Linked DNA regions of Homo sapiens: region 1 is linked to region 2. Evidence: fine-mapped expression QTL. A gene starts in region 2. The other region holds a variant in brackets. All regions are shown on one strand. Distances are between the middles of the regions. Region 1 overlaps BRF1 (BRF1 general transcription factor IIIB subunit). Region 2 holds the start of GPR132 (G protein-coupled receptor 132).

What was found. PIP is the estimated chance that this variant, and not a neighbour inherited with it, causes the effect. A credible set is the group of variants that fine-mapping cannot tell apart.
Region 1: its variant is the best candidate, but not a certain one, in a credible set for the expression of GPR132 in thyroid (GTEx, PIP 0.56).

The regions. Positions count from the first base shown.
Region 1 is chr14:105,211,709-105,214,504 of GRCh38, reverse strand. It overlaps BRF1 (BRF1 general transcription factor IIIB subunit), which reads left to right. Exons shown (of 18, transcript NM_001519.4): 16 at 2,341-2,392. Among named protein-coding and RNA genes, the nearest start is that of NUDT14, 32 kb to the right of the region's middle. The variant C/T (reference allele first, on the strand shown) is at 1,711.
Region 2 is chr14:105,063,900-105,066,695 of GRCh38, reverse strand. GPR132 (G protein-coupled receptor 132) reads left to right here and starts at 1,266. Exons shown (of 4, transcript NM_013345.4): 1 at 1,266-1,317. RefSeq lists enhancers at 118-187, 398-567, 243-760, 2,438-2,577, 2,688-2,787.

The DNA of each region.
Region 1 (2,796 bases), 150 kb before region 2:
CCATGCAGGGGTGTGGGCAGCTGAGCCACGCAGGGGTGTGGGCAGCTGAGCCACGCAGGGGTGGGCCATGCATGGGTGTGGGCAGCTGAGCCACACAGGGATGTGGGCAGCCGCTCCCTCCGAGCTTGTCTCCTCCTCACTCTGTGGTCACTCGGGCTGCTTTGACCCTCGGGGTCTTCCTCTAGCCCATGCAGATCAGTCTGTCCTCATGCCTGAGCGTCCCACTCTGGGGACAGGCAGAGGGGCCAGTGTGGGCTGTGGGCCCCAGCGCCCATATCTGGAAGGGGGACAAAGTGGGGGCCCACCAGATGAGCTGCCCTCTTGCCTGCTTACAGGCCCCAGGATCCCCCCAGGCTGGGCTGGGGCCGAGCTTCAGCCAAGCGGGGTCAGCAGGTGCTGGCGCGGCTGCGAGAGGGAGCAGCCTGAGCCCAACAGTGGGTTTGCGTGAACAATGGGCCGCAGCGCCCCACATCCTCAGGCCCCTGGCTGGGGACCCCCGTACAGGCCAAAGCCATGGCCGAGGTGATGCCAGGTGGGAGCTTGTTCTCCAGGCGCTCTCAGGCCCTCCCGTGTGGCCTGGCTGCCTCAGGTTCACACAGGATACTGCGTGGAAGAGGGGGAAGCCCTTGAGACAGGCCCCCAGCTAGCCCGCAGACCCCAGGAGCCCTTGCGGTTCTGCACTCATGAACACTACGCACCCTCTCTCCAGCCGGGTTCTGCAGGAGTAGGGAGCTTTCTGGCCCCCCAGGGTGAGGCCTGGCACAGCTGCTTCCTGGTTCTGGAAAAGCTGGACTTGTCTGTCAGGACCTTGGGTCAGTGCAGCAGGACCTTGTGGCTTGAATTTCAGCCTGTCCTCAGTGCCAGGTGGGGGAGGGAGGGTGTGTCCCTGCAGGAAGCGCACCCTCCTAACAGCACCGCTCTCCCTGTAGCCCCGTATTCCTGCCCGCCAGCATCTGCTCCTCTCTAGCTAAGGTACAGTCTGCCAAAGTCAAAGAAACTGCCTCTTCCAGAGGTTGCAGTGGGCCGAGATCGCGTCACTGCACTCTAGCCTGGCGACAGAGCAAGATTCCGTCTCAGAAAAAAAAAAAAGAAAAAAACTACCTCTCCTTGAGCCAGCGGGGTCTCAGGGCCCTTCTCAATGGGGGCCTGCTGGCCTCACCTTCCAGAGCATGAATCTCCTGGGGACTTAGTCCCACCGGCCAAGATCAGGCCTCCCACCCAACTGCCAGGCCTGCCTCCTGGAGCGCCAGCCACTTCTGGAGAGACCACAGTGGGGTGTCTCATTGAGGTCAGCCTGCTGAGAAGCCCCGCTGCAGGGCCAGCTGCCATCCCCAGAGGCCCCCACTCCACTGCACAGTGGGCCTGGGGATGGGAGTGGGGAGGGCGGAGCAGCAGCTGTCAGGCTCCAGGAAGCAGGCTGGAGGCCTGGCCTGAGGATACAGCACCACCAGGAGCCCTGGTGTCCAGACTGTCTCCAGTCTGGAGAGGGACCACATGGGGAGCCCGGGGCCTCAGCCTGGCTCACACCTGCTATCAGCTTCACCCCGAGCAGAGCTCCACGTCTAGATGTTCTGCTAAGGTCCACCTGTCATGGGGTCCCTTCCCAGTGTCCCGAGGGTTCATCTGACACGTCAGAGCCAGGCAGGGCCCTGCCTCAGGCCCCCTACCGCCTCCCCACACAGCTGTGCCCTGGAGGGAAGGGCTCTGCCC[C/T]GCTGCGTCCTTCCCCACAGGCCCTGAGCCCTCTCATTGCCCGCCCGACAGCCCTGTGTGTCCGTGCTGGAGGTTGTGGGTAATGCCTGCGTCCTCTCCCCTGGGCCCCCCTGTCTCCCTGGGGGGACCAGCAGTCTCCAAGAAGACTTGGCATGTGGAAGGCACCTTTGGCCTTTGTGTGTGGCGGGCCGGCGAGCAGGCCCTGTGCAGGGTGTTGTCAGCAGATGTAGGGATTGCCCTGGGCCTGGTGAGGGTTGGGGAAGCACTCTCGGGTCTGACAGTGTCCCTTCACCCTCCCTCCCCTCCTCCCTGAGTGAGGTAGGGCACCAGGCAGCTCCTTGAGGGCTCAGGCACTGTTGGAAGGGGAGTGGGCTGGGGAGCGGGGCGTCTGCAGCTTCTGTGTTTGTGTCGAGTGCTGCTCGCTGTTGAGAATGTGAACGGGTCAGAGCTCTGTGTTGATGTGCAGTGAGCACTGATGGAGCACACAGAACCTGGACGCAGAACCAGGCTTCCAAAGGGACAGAGAAACAGTCAATTAACACTGGGAAAGGGAAGATGGGCAAAAGGGAACAAGTGGGCAGGCGTTCGGGAGCCTGGGCTGAGGCCGCCATGCTGTGCTTCCTTTTGCAGGTTGAGGCCTCTGGTGTCTACGCAGCCAGCAAAGAAGGTGGCCACGGGAGAGGTGTGTTGTCCCACGCAGCCAGGGCAGGGAGACCTTGGGAGGCAGCCCACTTCTTCCTGGGCCCAGATGCTTGGTCTGTGACCACAGGGAGAGCAGGCCTGACAGAGGCGCCTGCCCCTGCTGCCCCATACTTGCCTGGCATGGCCAGAGAATCGAGGCCCGAGGGTGGGAGCTCCCGGTTGCCGGAGCAGGAGCGGGCAGGAAGTGGGGACCGTTGTGTGCCTGCTGCTCAGCGCTCGGGCCAAGGCTGAGCAGCCTTGCTGTGGGCCTGGTGCCTGCAGGGAGCCTGTATGTAGGAAGCAGGCACTGCCAGGTCACAGGGCCCAGCCCTCCAGGGCTCAGGGGTCTTTCACCTGGACTGTCACTTGTTGGGGACTGGTCTGGCCCAGGAAACGAGGGTGAAG
Region 2 (2,796 bases):
TGAGACCTGCGCCTCCCCGCCAGGGCAATGGGAAAGCCCAGCTTTCCAGGGACTCCACTGCCACCCACACAAAACCCTCTGAAATCGCTGTTCGGAGGCAGCCTCCAGCCATGCGGCCCTGCAGCAGGGGGCAGCTGTGATCCACGTGTCTGGGGGAAAGTGTAGACTGGGGGCTCGGCCTCCACCGGCCTCTCCTGGCCGTGGGTGTACCCACCCAGGATGGCGGCTTCTTCGCTCAGTGACCGTCCCTGCTGCGGTGCTGGGCAGTGTCGCTTGGAGACATTTGTGGTCCCCAGCTCCTTCCCTCAGCCCGGCCCTGTCCCCACTGCTGAAAGAGCCTGGCTTGGATGGAGCTTGGCAGGCTCGGGAGTGGGCACCAGGGTGGGTCTGTGCCCTGAAACTCAGAAGCAGCCTGGAGGTGAGTGGAGTTGTAGGTGCTGTCCACAGCCAGCTGGCTTTGTCCAAGGAAACTGGGCCCATCATGGCCGGAAGCCCCACAGTGAGGGGGACTGTCCCAGGCAACCCTGCCTGCCCACCCTCCAGTTCCCACAGGGCCCCTCACAGAGAAGCCCACCCGCAGGGCTCCTGGGCCAGGCCAGGCTTGGTTCTGGATGCAGGAGGGGTTGAGGTAGGGCTGGGGGAGGAATGTGGAGTGTGCAGTAGGCTGTTCTTCCCACACGGCCCTGCCCCATGTAGGAAGAGGGAGGCGGGGAGGGGAGGGTGCTTGTGTGCAGTGGCTGTGCCGAGCCTTCCAGGACATGCAGGTGCCATCCTGGTCCCGGGGCTGCAGTGGGCGCACTCAGCCTCTCTACTCCTGGCACCCCGGACAGGGACTCCTGGGAGGACACAGCCTCTGGGAAGTCACCCTGCTCCGTGCTTGCCTGGCCCGAGAGTGGGCAACACCAGGCCTGAGCTGCAGAGGAGCTGGATTTTGTCTTTCCAGGACCCCTCCCTGCAGCCTTTCCAGGACCCCTGTCCTGCCTTGCCTGTCTGGGGACACACGGACAGCCGCTGTGCCGCGCCAGGCCCCAGCACCTGCCTGGGAGCTCCTGAGTGAGTGGAGCCTGGCTCTGAGTGCTGCTATTGCTAAAAGAGGTAAGACTGGGGTTTCCTGCCACTCCCTCCCTCAGGAAGGTGACGAGGCCATGCTGTCATCACCAGTAAGATACCCCAGCCCGGTTGGCTAACCCCTAGCTCAGCCCTGTTTGTGGTTAGGGGAGTTCTAGACAGAACATAATTAGACCCCTGCTACTTCCTGAAACCTCAGCTAGGACTGCAGGGAGGGGTGCGAGGCTAGCCACGCAGGCGGGGCCCTGGGTAAGTCGCTGGGCTCTGCGTGCTGGGGAGTGGGCCTGGGGGGCCAGGCTCTGGGATGGGGCTGGGGGCTGGGAGCTGGAGGCGGGCAGAGGGGGATCTGAAGGCAAAGGTGATTTGTTGGTAAAGATGGAGGCTTTGTTGAGGGTTCTTAATCTGGGGTCCCTCCCGAGAGAACCCAGGACCCCCAGTGACCACAGATGTGATGGGGCCGGAGGATTTGGGGGAGAGGGACAACAGTTTCCATTGTATCTTTGTCACCGCCACCTTCCTGGAGACTTTCTTCTGGAAAAGGCTTCCCTGGCTACTGGTCCAGATGGGGGTGAGTCAGGGGGCTGGACTTTGTCCCTGGAATCTCTCCTTGGCCACTTGCTTCCGTGATTGGTCGGGGGGCACTGAAGGGCTGGGCTTCTCTCTGTGGGGCCTGTGCTGCTTGTGGGGTTACACAGAGGGAAAAGCAGGGCAGTGGGGGCTGTGCTGCGGTGAGTGGCAGTTGGCCCAGTCACGTGACAAGATCCTGGAGCTGGGCAGGTCACCGGCCTTTGGAGTGGCGTTCGGCGCACCAGGCACAGCGGGGCGGGGGGCCCAATACCTTCTGTCAAGTGCATGACGTGGGTCTGTACCACTGCAAGGGACTGGGACTGACCACTGAAGACTGGCCAGTTGGGCTGAGCACAAAATGATATTTCAGGAGATTGGCCAGGCCGAGGTGGGAGAGCAGAGGCTCCTGGAAGAAGATGAGGATAGGGGCTGGGCACGGTGGTTCATGCCTGTAATCCCAGCACTTTGGGAGGCCGAGGTGGGCGGATCACTTGAGGTCAGGAGTTTGAGACCAGCCTGACCAACATGGTGATACCCTGTCTCTACTAAAAATACAAAAATTAGCCGGGCGTGTTGGCACACGTCTGTAATCCCAGCTACTTGGGAGGCCGAGGCAGGAGAATCGCTTGAACCTGAGAGGCGGAGCTTGCAGTGAGCCGAGATCGCGCCATTGCACTCTAGCCTGGGCAACACTATCAAATTGGGAAAAATAAGAAAGTTGACAATGGGCTTTGGATGGGTGTGGTGGAGCAGGGAGGTTGGAGCTGGTGACTCCACATTTCCCTCCCTAGGGTTTGTCTCAAACGTGACGGCAGAAAAGAGGTCATAGGTTTGCCTGGTGCCAAAGCAGGTGGGAGTAAAAGACGGAAATGGCTAGGAATGGCCAGCAACCGTGAAACAGCTTAGAAATTACAGGCAATCCAGCCAGGTGCGGTGGCTTACGCCTGTAATCCCAGCACTTTGGGAGGCCAAGGCAGGTGGATCACCTGAGGTCAGGAGTTCGAGACCAGCGTAACCAATATGGTGAAACCCTGTCTCTACTAAAAATACAAAATTAGCCGGGCGTGGTGGCACACGCCTGTAATCCCATTTACTTGGGAGGCTGAGGCAGGAGACTCACTTGAACCCAGGAGGTGGAGGTTGTGGTGAGCCGAGATCGTG